Regions from separate parts of the Homo sapiens genome. Here region 2 is linked to region 1. Evidence: fine-mapped expression QTL. A gene starts in region 1. The other region holds a variant in brackets. All regions are shown on one strand. Distances are between the middles of the regions.

Region 1 (9,467 bases):
AGTTCTGGGATTACAAGCGTGAGCCACCCTGCCCAGCTTTCCTGTGTGATTTTAATGTCCAGTGTCTTTTTTTCTTTTTTTTAACTTCATGGGTCCTGAACAAACTATTACTGGCTCTCCCTCAGTCTGGTTCAACAATTCTTTTCCTCTTTTCAGTTGCCTTAAAATAAGTGGTGCTCAAAGTACCCACCTCTGTGCTTTTGTTATGCTTCTGTACACACTTGTTTTCTTTTCATGACCTTAGCAATGCCCATTAGTCTCTCACCTTCACCAGTTCTGGCACCACCTATGCTACCCCCAACCAATCTGTGATAGTGGGGGCCCAGCTCACCTGGGGAGGTGAGATTGAAGCAAATCCTGCCTTCGTTGCAGACCCAAAGGACTGAGCAAGCCAGTATGCTCTGGACACTGGGGACACATCAAAGAAACTGTTTTCCTGGTCCACCCCCACTGGGAGGGCCAGGATGCTTGTCTGTCTCCTTGTTTGTAGGGCCTCCTTCATGCCAAGGCTTTTCTGGTCTCCTAGGTTGCAGGTAAACAGCCTGGAGTGCCCAGACCTGTACCCTCCTCAGCTAGAGAGAGCTGTTCCTGCTAGCTCTATTCATTTTTCCAAATCTTCCCCTTGTCTTTGATATCTTTTCCCAGGTGCTGGGGTTTATACTTTCTCCGTGCCAGAAGCCACAAGCTTATTCTAGTGGAGATAGTGTCTCCGCCCTCCTTCTTTCTTTTTGGATTTTATGTGTGGTGGATTAAAGGATCAGATACTTATTCCCTGATATTTACCCAGCTCCGTACCTCTTTTCCCTTCAACCCCTCTGTCCTTGCTCCCAATGTGCCAAATGGCCACATGGCCAGCAATCATTCTACAATTTACAGTAATCTCCCCCTATGCAGAAGTATACGTTGAAATGTACACCCAAATTCAAACCTTCTCCCCAGCTCAGCCTGACTGATTTTCTCTTGGCTCTCTCCTGGATATTTCACTCGCACCTCAAGTTGTGCTCAGTACCTCCAAGCCAGATCTCATTCTTCTTGTTCCCTCTCCTTGCTTCCTTACTTTTGTAAATGGCACCATCATTTCCTGATAATGCAGACACAAAGCCTCCCTTCTAATCCGCCTTCTAATCAGCTGTTAGACCTTGTAGGTTCAATTTCTTGAAAGAAGTTGAGATGTATAAACAGTTCCTGATTTACGGTGGTTTGACTTATGATTTTTGCTAGATACTGGATATACATTAAAGAGCAAAAACAGTTGTTCTACTTTTCTGGCACTTACAGTCTTGTGGGGGGGAAAACAGACAAAATAATCACAAATAAACATAATATCACAATTTAGATTAATGCTTATAAAACAAAGGTGCCTATTGCTACTAACATTTTCTATCCCTGCTACCTAACGTAAAAACACAAAATTCAACATGTTTTTCTTTTTTAAAACATCTTTATTGAGATATAATTCAATAACATCCAGTTTATCCATTTAAATTGCGTATGTCCATGGCTTTTTGTATGTTCAAAGTTGTGTAATCATCACCATAAATGTTTTTATTATCGCAAAAATAAACCTCACTTGTCTTAGCCATCACCCCGATCCTTCCCAGCCCTAAGCAACCACCAATCCACTTATGTCTCTATGGATTTGCCTGTTCTGAACATTTCATGTAAATGGGATCCTACAGTATGTGCCTTTTAAATGACTGGCTTCTTTCATTAAGTATAATGTTTTCAAGGTTTATCAATGTTGTAGCATGTATCAGTACTTTATTTCTTTTTACCACTGAATAATATTCCATTGTACCATGTGTTTTTCTCAGCATAGACAAAGATAGGATGCTGTTCCGCTGTATTCTCCATACCCAGACAAATTCAGTTTGTCATGTTTCTAGAAAAAGGTGACAGTAAGTAAATATTGGCTAAGCCTTACAAGGGTGGCAGCCGTGTTTACAAAGCGGCTTTTCATGAGTGACTTTATTCACTCAGTTCTTTTAGTCTAATTAGTATTTCTGACTCACAAACGGAAGTGATTCTATTTTGGCATTCTTTCTCTCTTTCTCCTGCTTGGTCTCTACTGACTTGCTGTGTTAAATTATGCAAGTTACTGAAACTCTGTTTGTTTAACTCCTGCGTGCTCTATAAAATAAGCCCAGTCCAGTCTGCTTGTTTGCCAAAGCTGTTTGAAGACAATTTTTCATATGATATGCATCATCAGCTCCCACAGAAGGCAAAAGGAATTTGATGTGTGGGGGTAGTCTGGGATCCTGTTCAAAATTAATGCTCATCTGGAAGAAATATGAAAGCCTGATACTTGCTTACTGGACTTTTAGTTGTATTCACTTATTGCTTTTCCTCTGAGAAACTTTGAAAATCTTTATCTCTTTTGTGGTTTTTTCTTTCCTTTTTTTTGAGACAGAGTCTTGCTCTGTCACCCAATCTGGAGTGCAGTGGTGCGATCTCAGCTCACTGCAACTGCTGCCTTCCTGGCTCAAGCGATTCTCCTGTCTCAGCCTCCTGAATAGCTGGGATTACAGGCGTATGCCACCATGTTCAGCTAATTTTTGTATTTTTAGTAGAGATGGGGTTTCGATATGTTGGCCAGGATGGTCTCAAACTCCTGACCTCAAGTCATCTGCCCGCCTTGGTCTCCCAAAATGCTGGGATTACAGGCATGAGCCACTGTGCCCATCCTCTGTGTGTGTGTGTGTGTGTGTGTGTGTGTGTGTGTGTGTGTGTGTGTGTTTTATATAAGATGAGATAAAGTTAAAAAAAAAAAGATTGTAGTAGAAAAAGTTTTTCTGATACTCTCTATTGGCCAACTGTGAACCAAAGAGAATAATCTGTCTGACCTAGCTTTGTGACCTGGGGAACGATTATCCATAACATTCAGAATTCTCTTTATTTTACCCTGAGATTGACCTCTCCAGACCCTAAGTTGGGATGTAAAATTCACCTGGATTTAAATTATCACTAATTTACTTATGCAATATGCTCTGTGCTGAGGAGAATGCAAAAAAAAAAAAAAAACCACAAATCCTTGTTTTCAAAGTGCTCACAGTCTAAAAGAGATGTGAGGAGCTGTGCATAAGGCAGAGGGAGCTAAGCCCCAAGAGAGGCAAAAATCTAGATGTTCAGGGAGCAGAAACCAGAGAAGACCTTTTTTTTTTTTTTTGTCTCAGATGGAGTCTTGCTCTGTAGGCAGGCTAGAGTGCAGTGGTGCTATCTTGGCTCACTGCAACCTCCGCTTCCCAGGTTCAAGCGATTCTCCTGCCTCAGCCTCCCGAGTAGCTGGGACTACAGTCGTGCACCACCACGCCCAGCTAATTTTTGTATTTTTAGTACAGACCAGGTTTCACCATGTTGGCCAGGATGGTCTCGATCTCTTGACCTCGTGATCTGCCCTCCTCGGCCTCCCAAAGTGCTGGAATTACAGGCATGAGCCACTGCGCCCGGCCCAGAGACGACATTTCTGCCAGGTGGAGCGACAGACATAGTTACATGGAGAAGATGATGATGATGATGATGATGATAATGATGATGATTTGAGACAGGATCTCGCCCAGTCGCCCAGGATCCAGTGCAGTGGCATGATCGCGGCTCACTGCAGCCTCCATCTCCTGTGTTTAAGCAATCCTCCAGCCTTAGCCTCCTGAGTAGCTGGGACTACAAGTGAGCGCCACCAAGCCCAGCTAATTTTTTTTTTTTGTGTGTATATATATATATATATATATATATTTTTTTTTTTTTTTTGGTAGAGACAGGGTTTCACCATGTTGCCCAGGCTCGTCTCGAACTCCTGGCCTCAAGTGATCCACCTGCCTCGGTCCCCCAAAGTACTGGGATTACAGGCGTGAGCCACTGCGCCCGGTGAGAAGATTATTCTGAGCTTTTTGAAGTGGAGACAGGAAATAGCATGTAAACGCTCCTAGTGCCACTTCCTTCGGGTGGCGAGGTGCACAGCAGTAGTCTCAGGTGTGTGAAGGGCAGCTGTGAGAAATAAACCTGAAAAGACGGGATGGAGACCTTGAACACTAGACTAGGGAATCTGTTCTTGATAATTTAAGCAAACGGAAGCCAATGAAAGTCTTTGGCACACTGTTCATCAAAACTGCTCTTAAGGAAATTAACCTGGCAGGAAGATGAAGGGTGGATTGGCAAGAGGAGAGACTTCAGACTGGGAGACCAAGGGAGGGTGCTGCAACAGTCCAGGCAGACGGAGTGGAATGAAGGTGACCGGCCGCTGCAGCAAGCTCTGGAGTCTCGCAGTTGGGACGTTAGGGGTACCACTCCAGGACAGAGCTCCCTCCTGGGGCAGGGACTGGGAGGAGCCAAAGTTATAGCCACACCCCCGGTGACGCCCGGTGGTCGGCTGTGGTCTCCCATTGGCTACACCGGCTGCCAGTCCCTGGAGGAGGCGGTGCCCTTCCCCGCCCTCTCCGAGCTCGGCTTGAGGCGGGCGCGGGCTGAGAGTCCGGGGATCCCGGGGGCCAGTCGCGGCCGGGACATCGGGCGCTGCGGCCGGGGACCCGCTGCTGAGATAGACAGGTGAGAAAGCCCGGGGACGAGGGGCCACTCCAGAGTTCCTGCCACCCTGGGATCCCCGCCCCCTTGAGGGCGCCCCGTCCAGGGGGGCTCGCGGGGCCGAGGTTTGGGGCGCCGGGAGGAGCGGGAAGGCGGGGACGAGAGGGACGGAGCGGGCTGACTCGGGATCCGCCGCTGCACCTCCCGCCACAGCCCAGAGTCGGCCCCCAAGTCTGGATGTCGCCGGGAGAGGTGGGCAGGGGGCGGTGGCCGGCGGTCCCTCGCGCCCGTGGGCTCCCGTGACGTTCTGTTTGGAAACACTGGGCCCGGGCTTCTGGCGCGGCGCGAGCGGTCCCGGGGGCGCAGCGGGGCAGCCCAGGGTCCCCGAGCCGAGGGACCCGCGCGGTCAGGGATGCCGCGCTCGCCTTAGGCTTCGGGAGATCCACCAGGATCTCCGGGGCGAAACTTTAAACTCAAAACTTTAAAGAAGCATTTTGTACACCTCGAGTTGCTGGCACGTCAAAGCACCCTAAGGTGACCTACCCGGAAACCACTGTCCCCGAAGTTAGTGGGGCACTTTTTAAAGGACAACACTTTTTACCCGTCGATATTGTTGTGCGTAACGCTGTGGAAATAGAAGTCGAACCACTTACATTGGAAAAGCTCTGGTGGTGGGCTACCTGAGGGTCACTGCTTTCTTTGTGAAAATGCCAGTCTTGGAAGCCTGGCCCGCACAGCGGTGTGTCCCAGAGGAGTATGTAGTGAGGAGCTCGGCTGTTCTGGGCAGGGTCACCGAAGGGCAGGCGTTGCCCAAGTGGGGCTAGGTGGCTAGGTGGTGGTCAGAAGGTTCCTTAAACAAGGCATGCCTCAGTCTCGTCGAGAAAGATCTTTTAACACACACACACACACACACACACACACACACACACACACTCACACACACGATTACCCAGCCCAGTTAAGCTGTCCCTTAAGAGGCAAAAACTAAAGAATATCATAGAGACTAACGCTGCGCTTCATCAGGGTAAGCCTAAGTAGAATAATTCTTTCATTTCTTTTTCTTTCCTTTTTGGGATTTGGAAGAGAAACAGGAAGTCAGAGATTCAGAGAAAAGAGCATTCACTCCACAATTGTAAACAGTTTATCTTATGTCAGTAAATACTTCCAAAAATCACTGGGGGTATTTGGAACTCCAAGACTTTTTCCTGTCCCCTGAAGTGAAGATAGATTATTTTCAAATGCAGAATCTAGACATGATAGATTCCTTTCAAATTCAGAATCTATATGTGGTATTTTCTTTATTTAGCAGTCGGCTATGTTATATAGTTATATATATATTCCCAATGTTATATAGTTCTATAACATTAGTGGTAATGAAAAGGATGGCGGATATTGTTTAAAATTAGAATTTTTAACTACCCAAGATGGTGCACTAATACAACAGTTGCTTTGTACTTGTTAACTAACTGAAATTACAGAATGAAATGAGGGAATCAGGTGTCTGGATCTCAGTGCAGACCATTATCCAACCAATTTGCAGTTCTGATTTATTATGACCCATTAATAGGGAATGTAGATGTTAAATGCCAATTTAATAATATTCTTAAGGCTTTGCTACTTCACTATAAAATATATAATTAGCATAACTAAAGAAATAGGTATGTTTGACTTTGAATTAATTTATTATGTCATCATAGCAAAGTGCGCTAGGTAAGATATATGTATGATACTTTTCATATTTGGGGTTAACAGTTACCTCTCAATTTTTTGAGCTAATTGTGAAATTCTTGGCAGGGATAACCACAAATAATGGTTGATTAAATTTGTAAATGCAGTCCTAGTATACATCCATTTAAACTGCGACTTTTTCTTTAGTCATTTGTAAATATGTGATCTTTTTTATTGAGATCTTAATATAAGTCACAAACTATAAGATTTTTCCTTTTAAAGTATACAGTTCACTGGGTTTTGGTATATTCACAAGGTTGTATAGCCATCACCAATATCTAATTCTAGAATATTTTCATCACCCCAAAAAGAAACCCCCTATCCATTGTAGTCAGTATCTGCTACCTTCTCCTCACAGCCCTTGGCAACCACTAACCTACTTTCTGTCCTTTGGATTTGCCTCTTATGGACATTTCATGTAAATGGACTCATACAATATGTGGCCTTTTGTGTCTGGCATCTTTCACTTAGCATAATGTTTTCAAGGCTCTTCCATGACTATAGCGTGTATTAGTACTGTATTCCTTTTTTATGGCCGAATAATATTCCATTGTATGGATGTACCACTTTTTTTTTTTTTTTTTTTTTTTTGAGACAGAGTCTCACTCTGTCACCCAGGCTGGAGTGCAATGGCAGGATCTCAGCTCACTGCAACTTCTGCCTCCTGGGTTAAAGCAATTCTCCTGTCTCAGCCTCCCTAGTAGCTGGAATTATAGGCCTGCACCACCATGCCTGGCTAATTTTTGTATTTTTAGTAGAGACGGGGTTTTGCCATGTTGGCCAGGCTTGTCTTGAACTCCTGACCTCAGATGATCCACCTGCTTTTGCCCTACAAAGTGCTGGGATTACAGGAGTGAGCCACTGCACCCAGCCAGATCTACTACATTTTATTCATTCATCTGATGGTGGACACAGGCTGTTTCTACTCTTTGGCTATCATGAATAATGTTGCTCTGAACATTTATTTACAAGTTTTGGTGTGGATGTGTATTTCATCCCTTGGCATATGACCCCATCCCTTGGCATATGACCCAGCAACTCCAATGCCAAGTATAAAGTTACCAATACTTTATATTGATATACCAAATATAAAGTTACTCCAATAACTTGGTAACTTTATATTTAAACTTTTTTTTTTTTTTGAGACGGTGTCTCACTCTTGTCACCCAGGCTGGAGTGCAGTGTATGATCATAGCTCACTGCTCAAGTGATCCTCCCACACAGGGCTCCCGAGTAGCTGGGACCACAGGTAAGCTCCCCGACGCTTAGCTGATTTTTAAATTTTTTGATAGAGATGAGGTCTTGCTATGTTGCACAGTCTGGTCTTGAACTCCTGACCTCAGAGATGAATTCTCCAACCTCAGCCTCTCAAACTGTTGGGATTACAGGCGTGAGCCACCATGCTGGCCTGTTTAAACTTTTCAGGAACTGTAAAACTGTTTACAAAGCAGCTGTACCATTTTTACATTCCCACCAACAATGTATGAGGGTTCCCATTTCTCTACATCCTCACCAACACTTGTTGTTAGATGTCTTTTTCATTAGAACATCCTATTTGATGTGAAGTGGAATGTTGTTGTGACTTTGATTTGCATTTTCTCTCATAGCAAATAATGTGCTTATTGGCCATTTGTATATCTTCTTTGGATAAATCTCTATTCAGATACTTTGCCCATTTTTATTTATTTATTTTTAATTTATTATTATTATTGTTTTTAAAGATCGGGGTCTCCCTCTGTCGCCCAGGCTGGAGTGCAGTGGTGTGAACATGGTTCACTGCAGCTTCGACCTCCTGGGCTCAAGTGATCTTCCTGCCTCAACCCCCAAGTAGCTGGGACTACAGGCCTGCACCACCATGCCTGGCTAATTTTTTTTTTTTTTTTTTTTTTAATAAAGACAGGGTTTTGCCACCTTGCCCAGGCTGGTCTCAAACTCATGAGCTCAGGCAGTCTAACCGCCTCGGCCTCCCAGAGTGCTGGGATTATAAGCATGAGCCACCACGTCCAGGCCTTTGCCCATTGTTTAATTGGGTTATCTTTTTTTATCGTTGAGTCCTAAGAGTCCTTTATATATTCTAGACACAAATCCCTGAGATACATGATTTGCAACTATTTTTCCCATTCTGTGGGTTATCTTTGCACTTTCTTGATAGTGTCCTTTGAAGGACAAAAATTTAAAAATTTTTATGAAGTCCAATTTATCTATTTTTTCTTCGATTCCTTGTGCTTTAGGTGTCATATCTAAGAATCTGTTGCCTAATCCAAGGTCATGAAGATTTATACCTCTTTTCTTCTAAGAGTTTAGAGCAAGCGTGTCCAACCTGTGGCCTGCAGGCCACAGGCAGCCCAGGATGGCTTTGAATGTGGCCCAAAACAAATTTGTAAACTTTCTTAAAGCATTATGAGATTTGTTTTGCAATTTTTTTTTTTAGCTCATCAGCTACCTTTAGTGTTAGTGTATTTTATGTGTGGCTCAAGACAATTCTTCTTCTAACGTGGCCCAAGGAAGTCAAAAGATTGGACACCCCTGGTTTAGAGCTTTGGCTGGTACCTGTAAGTTTGTGATCCATTTTGTGTTACTGTGTATATATGGTATGAGGTATGGGTCCACATTCATTCTTTTACATATGGATATCCAGTTGTCCCAGCATCATCTGTTGAAAAGACTATTCTTTCCCCCATTGGATGATCTTATCACTCTTGCCAAAAATCAATGTGAGGCTTTAATTCTGGACTTAACTTTATTCTGTTTATCTATATATCTATCTTTATGCAAGTACCACACTGTGTAATCAAGCTACTGTATAGCTTTGTAGTAAGTTTAGAAATAGTAACATGTGAGTCCTCCAACTTTTCAATTTTATTTTGTCTATTCTTCAGCCCTTGAATTTCCAGGCAAAGTTTGATCAGCTTGTCAATTTCTGCAAAAAATGCAGTTGCAACTTTGATAGAGATTGCATTGTGTGTATATAGCCATTTGCAAGTATTGCCATCTTCACAATATTAAGTCTTCTAATCCATGAATATACAATTTCTTCCATTTATTTAGGTATTTTTAAATTTCTTTCAGTGATGTTTTGTAGTTTTCAGTGCACACATTTTGCACTTCTTTTGTTAAATTCATTCCTAAATATTTTATTAGTTTTGATGCTATTGTAAATGGAATATTTTCTTATTTTCATTTTTGGATTTTTCCTTGCTAGTGTATAGAAAAACAACTGACTT
Region 2 (9,467 bases), 72 kb after region 1:
TAACACGTTGAAACCCCATCTCTACTAAAAATACAAAAAAAATTAGCCGGGCGTGGTGGCGGGCGCCCATAGCCCCAGCTACTCGGGAGGTTGAGGCAGGAGGATGGCGTGAACCGAGGAGGTGGAGCTTTCAGTGAGCTGAGATTGTGCCACTGCACTCCAGCCTGGGTGACAGAGCAAGATTCTGTCTTAAAAAAAAAAAAAAAAAAAAAAAAGATTAAGATGGTAAATTTTATGTTCTGTGTTTTTTCCCACAATAAAAAAAGTTTAGAAAAGTGATTTGCATTGCTATTTCATTCGCTAAGAACTTCCTAAATGTCTAAATTCATTGGAATAAAGAGTTGTGTAAACTTTCAAAAAATGATTTCTAGGGTTGCTGATTTGTATTTTAAAATTGAAATTCATCTTAGTGTGGGGACTCAAATACACTCAACTCTGATGTATATTTTTTTACCTGAGAGAGACTAAATCAGAGAAACTGTGGCATTTCAGCTGTTTAAAATGGTAAAAATATAGGCTTCTATGTCCTTTTTTCCCAGAATTTAAAACACATTTCCCCTTTCTTTATTTCTTCCAAAAAATTCTTATGGAAACAATGCATGCTCATTACAAAAAATAAAACCAAACAACAAGAACTGTCTGGAATAACAAGAAATTTTCCTGTGGTTCTTTCTACCACCTCCTCCCTATCCCACCACTAATTCATATGTTAGGGGTAACTATTGATATTCAGTTCCTGTTCAGCTATCTGCAGTTCTTTCCATTCAGGAAATTTTATCCTTTTTTTTTTTTTTTTTTTTTTGAGGCAGCGTCTTACTCTGTCACCCAGGTGGGAGTGGAGTGGTGTGATCATAGCTCACTACCGCCTTGAACTCCTGGGCTCAAGCGATCCTCCTGCCTCAGCCTCCTGATTAGTTAGGATGACAGGTGCATACCACCATGCCTTGATACTTTTTAAGATTTTTTGTGGAGATGGGGGTCTCACTGTGTTGCCCAGACTGGTCTCAAACTCCTGGCCTTAAGCAATCCTCCTGCCTCAGCTTCTCAAGGTGCTAGGATTACAGGTGTGAGCCACTACACTTAGCTAGGAAATTACATTCCAATATTTCAACATCAGATTTACCTGATAAAGGCTTAAGAACAGTGGTTTTGGTTTTGGTTTTTGTTTGAGAACAAGTCTTGCTCTGTCGCCCAGGCTGTAGTGCAGTGGCATGATCTCGGCTCACTGCAACCTCCCCTTCCCAGGTTCAAGCAATTCTTGTGCCTCAGCCTCCCAAGTAACTGAGATTACAGGTGTATGCCACCATGTTTGGTTTTAGTAGAGAAAGGGTTTTGCCATGTTGCCCAGGTTGGTCTCAAACTCCTGGGCTCAAGCGATCCACTGCCTCAGCCTCCCAAAGTCCTGGGATTACAGATGGGAACCACCATGCCCCACCAGAACAGTGGTTTTGATACCATGCTGGTAATAGGGTTATGAATAGTCAGAGAATATCTTCCTATGTACTGCTTACTGAATTGGTTGGTAAGCAGTTGCCTGTACTTAGTTCTGCCCAGCCTGAGCAAAGCATGCATGGAGATTTCAAGGAAATAAAAGCTATGGTTCTTGCTCTCAAAGAGCTTGCAGTCTAGTTGGGGAACTAGCACACATGAGGAAATAATGAACCATGTAAAAAAGTGTATAAATAAACCTGTAAATGCCATAATCTGTAAAGTAGACTATACAGTTAGTAATCATGTATTAATCGAATTGCTTTTTAAATGGAGATTATGCTCATTTGTATTCATAAGAAAAAGACCAATGTGCTAATTAGAAGTTTTTTAAAATGTTGTTTCCTGTTTTTCTGTTTCAGATTCTGCTGCAACCCTTTCCTATACTACATCAGGACTTTATACATCTCTGATATACAAGAACATGACCACCCCAGTGTATACAACTTTGAAGGGGGTAACTCATTATTGTTATTGTTAAAACATGTGCTTCTCTTCATGATGGATCAAGGAAATTGTTAATTCAAGCTCCAGATTCCATTCTTAACATTTTACACAGGCTCTCCCTTTATAGAAAGTTTTACAAGTTCACGTTAACATATCATAAAAAAGAAGGAATGGAAAGGTCTGCAGAAGACACTTATCAGAATGTTAGAGGTCTGAGTCAGTTTTTACTGTGTCCCATGTGATTCCCCCACCTCCCCATGGCCATGAATTGTTTAAAGGAGACATATTATTAATAATGTAATGAAAACTCCTAATTTAGGCAGATCTTTGTATCAGTGCCAGGGTACCCCTTCCTTGCTTGAAGTATTAATTAAAAGAAGGATTGCAGGTATTGACAACCTTATATTTTCAGGCATCTTTTATAATTGCTTATTAGAATTCAGGGTTTAACAACATGATTTTGATAACAGCAAAATACATTCCCAAATTCCTTTTAAAAATCATATGCTGGCTGGGCACGGTGGCTCACGCCTGTAATCCCAGCACTTTGGGAGGCCGAGGCGGGCGGATCACGAGGTCAGGAGTTCGAGACCAGCCTGGCCAACATGGCGAAACCCTGTCTCTACTAAAAATATAAAAATTAGCCGGGCGTGGTGGCAGGTGCCTGTAATCCCAGCTACTCAGGAGGCTGAGTCAGGAGAATCGCTTGAACCTGGGAGGCGGAGGTTGCAGTGAACCGAGATCATGTCATTGCACTCCAGCCTGGGTGACAAGAGCAAGACTCCACCTCAAAAAAAAAAAAAAAAAAAATTCTATGCTATGACTTCTTCCTGTAAAACTTTCTGTTATCTAAAAAGAGTGATAACCTTAGGGATGGATACAGGGAGGTTGCTCTGCTTTTCTTTAGGAGGCGACCCTAATAACTAGCAGCCTTTTCTTGGATGAGTGGTAACATTAGGGATGGATACAGGGAGGTTGTTCCACTTTTCTTTAGAAGGCGACCCAAATAAGTAGCAGCCCTTTCCTGGATGACTCATCTGGGTCAGAGGAAGAAGACAGCTCCAGATCCAGCTCCCGGACGTCAGAGTCAGACTCACGCAGTAGGAGTGGGCCAGGCAGCCCCAGAGCCATGAAACGAGGTGAGGGAAAATCGCAGGCATATGAGGCAACTCCAGATCATTCTGAATATTAATTGGGAATTTTATCTCCATTACAGGATTATTTTTTAAATCCAAGAACTTGCTTCAGACCCTAGTGAAAAGAACTTTAGCCTATGACTGATATGTTTATATTCCTAATTCTCTTCTTAATTCTCTGTGATTTCAGACAAATTATATAGTTTTTTTTTTTCAGCTTTTTATTGTCTGTGAGAGGGAGATCACTTTATTGTTGGAATGAAGTGAGATAATTGGCCAAAATGAGGTTTCTTTCTTGGCATTTGTGAAATAGACTTATTTCAGCTAAAGTTGTTACACTGCTAACTGGCAGAAAATATACCTTAAAATTTGTCAATTAATCTGATGTTAAAGTGGAGAACAACATTTACTTGGAATATGTCTATGATTTTTAGTGGATTTTGAAGACATTCTGTGTGTAGGTAGTGGTTACAGAGAGATCTAATTCCACCAAATGACATCTGTATGTTATAAAAAGCCCTTAATGCAGCATGGTGTGTCTGTTGGCTTTCAAACTGTGTTCCATGGAACCTCTGGATACTTCCAATCCCCTCGGCTTCAACTGGAGCTGCTCAGCCTTCCTTGGTTTCATATTTTGAGCTTCCACTGGTCTTCTTGCTCTCAACTTGCCCCGCTACAGCCAGAATCAGGTTATGACACACTTTTGCTGGAAACACTGCAGTGGCTCCTCACAACGGCTATAAGGTGTTCCAGGATTCGGTCACGTACTTGACCTCATCTCCTTTCTTCTCTGTACTCAGCTCCAGTCTCACTGGCCCTCTTGCTGTTCTGAGACATGCCAGGCATGCTTGCATTTCAGGACCTTGGCACTGCTGTTTCCTCCAGCTGGTATTCTTCCCCTAGATGTCCGTATAGCTGACTCCCTCACCTCCATCAGCAAACGCTGCTTTCTCAATGAGGTCCACCCTGACCACACCACTCAAATTGCAGCCCTTTGTCTTTCTTCTGTTGCCAGCTCTTTTTATTCCCTTTAGTCTGCTCTA[T/C]GTTTTATTGTTCCATACCACCTACTGCCTGTTTGTCAGTGGTCTCCTTCCGCTAGAATTTGTTCCACGAGAGCCAATATTTTTGTTGTTTGCTCTATCCCTAGCATCTAGGACAGTGCCTGGCACACTGGCCCTGGTCCTGGGAGCCTGAGACTTGTGTTCCAACATTGCCCCTGCCTAACTCTTTGACTTTGGACAAATCCTTTAATCTCTGGGCCTTAGTCTCCTTGGGCCTTAGCCATGACAATCACTGAGGTCCCTATAGGTCTACATTTTTGTTTATTCTATGAAAAATGAAGATATTATAGCAACTGTTACTTGTCTGAGTCAAATAAAAAGCAGTGTCACAAGAGTGGCATTGTTCTAATATGTCCCTTAAATGTTAATACATATTTTTAAAAATTGCTGGATACTTTTATAAATAATTACCTAAGTCCTTGATTTTATTTAATATATTCTAAATCTCCAATTGTAGTGACTCATGAAATGTGGCTTGCAACTCCCAGGTAGTTTTCTGTAAAGGCAAATGAATCATTGTATAAATGTTCCATTGAATTTTATGTTATAGCTGCTGGCAAGTGAAAGAAATAGTTTGTTTATATCTTTCAATCTTATTGTTTCTCTTTTATGAAATATTTTTAAAATCTGTAAACTGCTTAGTAGCTTATGGAACTTGAATGAAAAAATACTACTGAATTGTGTTTTTTTAAAATGTGAGGTTACTTTAAAAGTGATTACAGAAGTTAAGAAATTTAAAATGTGATTGTGAAAATCTTGATAAATTAAGGTTCAACATTTGTTTGCCTATATGTCAATGTGTAAATACACATATTTTTAATTCTTAATAAAATATACATGAGTAGACTCTTGCATATATTTTATATATGTAAAATAGCTGTGTGATTGTAATCATACCAAAATATTATTCCTGTTCCTTTCACTTCCTTAGAGATTTACATGACAGTCCCTACCTCTTAGTTCTGTTTTCTGCTTTAAAAGTTCTTCATGTTGGGAGGCCAAGGCAGGCGGATCACGAGGTCAAGAGATCGAGACCATCCTGGCCAACATGATGAAACCCCATCTCTACTAAAGATACAAAAATTAGCTGGGCGTGGTGGCGCACACCTGTAGCCCCAGCTACTCGGGAGGCTGAGGCGGGAGAATCGCTTGAACCCAGGAGGCAGAGGTTGCAGTGAGCCGAGATTGTGCCAGTGCACTCCAGCCTGGTGACAGAGCGAGACTCTGTCTCAAAAAAAGTTATTTATGGCCAAAGGAATGAGAATAAATCTAGTCTAGGGAGGCTTATGATTTAGGAATAATTGCATTCTGTAGGAGCACTCAGAGCTGGTGTTTGGCCCTCCCCAGTATTAAATACTGACTTGATTTCTTTCTTTGTTCTCTTAGGTGTGTCTCTCTCCTCTGTGGCTTCTGAAAGTGATTATGCTATTCCTCCTGATGCTTACTCCACAGACACGGAGTACTCACAGCCAGAGCAGAAGCTCCCAAAAACTTGCTCATCTTCCAGTGATAATGGGAAAAATGTAAATATTGAATATGATTTTTAAAAAGCAGTCAGTCAGATTGAGCCTCCAAAAGGAAACTGAAAATGCTTTTGTCTATCTTTTAAAAATTAGGAACCACTGGAAAAATCTGGTTATTTATTAAAAATGAGTGGTAAAGTCAAGTCTTGGAAGCGGCGGTGGTTTGTTCTTAAAGGTGGTGAATTACTTTACTACAAATCTCCGGTGAGTGGAAAGTGTTTTCTGTTTAGAACGTAATTCCTCAAACTATAAATCAGACGCCTGATTGATTTCCTTCCCATAATGCAAGTAATGATACAAAGCATTCCTTATTATTACTGTTAAAGTTAATCACTTTCCATTTGTTTTTCTGTTTCATACAGAGTGATGTAATTAGAAAACCCCAGGGCCATATTGAACTTAGTGCATCCTGTAGTATTTTAAGAGGAGATAACAAACAAACAGTTCAGGTACTTAACTTTTTTTTTTTTTTTTTTTTTTTTGTATCATGCCAGACTCAATTCTCAATTATCCAACCTAATGGAAAGGAGATAGGATAATTCAGTGTTTCTTTATTCACTTTGGGGGGTTAGTTTGATGCCTTGGAAGTATGTGAAACTCCACGAATTTTTGGTTAAAACTATAATGTAAGTTAGGTGTGTGTTGAGTAACTCCCACCACACTTTACCTTTCTTCCTTTATACTCTTCTTTCCTCATATTTAATCTCCTAGGTATTTTCAGCTGTCCAACTGTGAAGCTATTTTAAGGAAGGGTTATCTGGTAAATGAATTCTCAATAAGATGTTAGTTATATAATGTACTGTGAAATTCAGGAATGTTTGTATTTTAATATAGAATCTGAAAATGACAGTTCTTATATGAACTTCAGATGCCATAACACCAAAGTGGGAAATATATTGGTGAGCAGAGGGAGTGTGCTGCCAAGCAAGTCACACTGTAGGGGCAGCTGCTGCCCATTTTACTCACACATAAGGCCAGTCTTGCCAGAAATCTGTTAAATTTAAAACACAGGCTGTTGAGATATTCTAGTATATGTAATTTAAAGTCAGACACTTTATTTCTGAAATGTCTTCAATAACCATTATTTTCTTATATTGCTCCTTTGGAGGGTGGAGGACAACTTTGCCAGAAAGGTACATTATCAATGTTTCCAGTGATTTGTACCTGAAAACCTCTCAAAAATTTAGAAAGGAGAATCAAGGAAAGCTTTGTCTTTGGGCATGGCAGTTAAGAATCATTTGTAAGTTTCTGAAATTTGGAAAATTTGCAGTGTGGCTAATTTGAGACTGGAACATTCTGAGTTCATAATATCTAATCACATGTTCGTTCCAATAATTTATCTTCTTATATGCAAGATCTTCTTATTTTATTTATAGTTGATTTTGTCATTTGTATTAAGAAACCTCTTCTTTAGTTGCTAAAACTATGCTATTTTATTATAGTCTTTAATCATTCTGCTCCTCATTTCAATAAGTAGGAACCTGGCCGGGCGCGGTGGCTCACGCCTGTAATCTCAGCACTTCAGGAGGCTGAGGCAGGCGGATCATGAGGTCAGGAGATCGAGACCATCCTGGCTAACACGGTGAAACCCCGTCTCTACTAAAAATTCAAAAAAAATTATCCGGGCATGGTGGCAGGTGCCTGTAAGTCCCAGCTGCTCGGGAGGCCGAGGCAGGAGAATGGTGTGAACCCAGGAGGCGGAGCTTGCAGTGAGCCAAGATGGCGCCACTGCACTCCAGCCTGGGCGACAGAAAGAGACTCTGTCTCAAAAAAAAAAAAAAAAGAAAAGTAGGAACCTGTAACACATTTAAGCAAGAAAGGGAAAATGTGACAAATAAACAAGATATAAAATCATAACCCCAAAATTAGGTAAACTGGAGTAACAAAGTTATTTCCACAAAAATTTAATTGCTGTAATTCTCACAAAGTGGTTAAAATATTCTAACTGATATGGAGTCATTTATTTAGAAACTGGGACTTGAGATTTAGCATGTTTGCTTCTGTGTTAAGTAATGACGTTTGAATAATGAACAAGGAAATGCTAACAATCCTAAATCTTCACAGTTTTCTTTCCTATACCTTTCTCGTTGCATTCTAGTTGACCACTGAAAAACACACATACTATCTGACTGCAGATTCTCCCAATATATTGGAAGAGTGGATTAAAGTGTTACAGAATGTTCTTCGAGTACAAGCTGCCAACCCACTTTCCCTGCAGCCTGAGGGCAAACCCACCATGAAGGGATTGCTCACTAAGGTAGGAACCTCCTGTGCATAGCAATGTCCCAGGCAGCTATGGGCATGAGCCCATGATCGCTGAAAATGGGATGTCAGAGCATATACATATATTGAATATTGATATGATCTTGGGGATAGGAAAGGGTGTTTTTAAGTATGATGCCCAAGGCAAAAACTATAAAGATGAAAAGAAGACAAATTTGACTATAATATGTAAAAATGTAAAGGCTCTATTAAAAATTCTACGAGCAGAATTTTTAAAAGAAGGATTGAAAAACTTTGAAGAGGTATTTGAAACATGTGAAAACTGGTTAATATCATTAATATTTAACACGTTTTTTTCTAATCAGTAAGCAAACAATGAACACCAATTGGGGGAAAAGGAACAAAAGACTCAATGGGCAGGAAAGAGAGATCATCGAGGTTAGAAGGAATACAAATGATCAATAAGCATATGGAAAAACATTTTACTGTCACTCAATTTTTTTAAAAGCACAGATTGAAATAAGAGGTGGCACTTTTTAAAATCTGGTGAAAAGTAAGACGTTTTTACAAATTTTGAAACCTAGTATTGACACAGATTAAAAAATCTGCTAGTTTCTGCAATTACATAGGCAGTAGAAAAAAAAAGAAATCTGCTAGTGAGAGCATTACTCTAAAAGGCAGTTTGGCAATATCTTGGCTGAAGTGTTAACTTAGCCAATAATTTTGAGTGAACAAATCAATATCAAATCAACACACACACACACACACGCATATATATCTCCTTTGATCCAGCAATCTCAGTTTTAAAAATTTATCCTTAGGAAGTGGTCTTAATTTGCAAAAGATTTAATTATGAGATGTTCCTCACAGCATGTTTTTTTTCCTATTTTAAAAAATGAGGTATGATTAATATATCTGAAATGCACAGATCTTAAGTGTAGAGTTTGACTAGTTTTGAAAGCTATTTACTTTTGACTCTATCAAGATGCAGAACATTTCCATTACCCCAGAAAGATTCCTTGCACAGCATGGTTCATAATAAAGAAAAATTGGGATCAAATTAGATGTAGGGTAAGGTATAGCTTTAAAAAATGTTTGTACAACCATATAATGCTTTACTATGCAGCCTTTTAAATGTTGTAAAAGAATATCTAATGCTATAGAAATATGATGTATTGTTAGGTAATAAGTAGAGTGCAGTATTACATTATTATACCTTATTTGTTGTAAGTATTTATAGAAAAATGTCTGGGAAATATACCAAAGTATATTGGTTATCTCTGTGATTTTATTTATTTTTGCTTAATTCTGTTTTTTTTTTTTTTACAATGAGTAAGTATTGACTTAATATTATTTTTAAGTTTTAAAAAGTCCTATTGGTCACTTTTTGAAAAATACAACAAAATATGTATACACACATAATCACTCCTCATTCATGTACTCTGATTATGTAAGAGGTGGAAAATTAGATGGAAAGTAACTATGCTACTGTGTAGTTTATACTTATTATTAATGTGGGAATGTAGGTGGGTGTTATTCCATAATATTTAAAAAGACTGACCAACTATAGCAAAGGTAAAACTTAATTC

What was found.
Region 2: its variant is fine-mapped to the expression of PLEKHH2 in pancreas (GTEx, PIP above 0.99).

Annotation. Positions count from the first base shown.
Region 1 is chr2:43,632,841-43,642,307 of GRCh38, forward strand. PLEKHH2 (pleckstrin homology, MyTH4 and FERM domain containing H2) reads left to right here and starts at 4,420. Exons shown (of 30, transcript NM_172069.4): 1 at 4,420-4,539. RefSeq lists a silencer at 4,324-4,653.
Region 2 is chr2:43,704,472-43,713,938 of GRCh38, forward strand. PLEKHH2 (pleckstrin homology, MyTH4 and FERM domain containing H2) reads left to right here. Exons shown (of 30, transcript NM_172069.4): 10 at 1,851-1,945; 11 at 2,930-3,074; 12 at 5,519-5,655; 13 at 5,749-5,859; 14 at 6,018-6,104; 15 at 7,754-7,912. Among named protein-coding and RNA genes, the nearest start is that of C1GALT1C1L, 33 kb to the left of the region's middle. The variant T/C (reference allele first, on the strand shown) is at 4,115.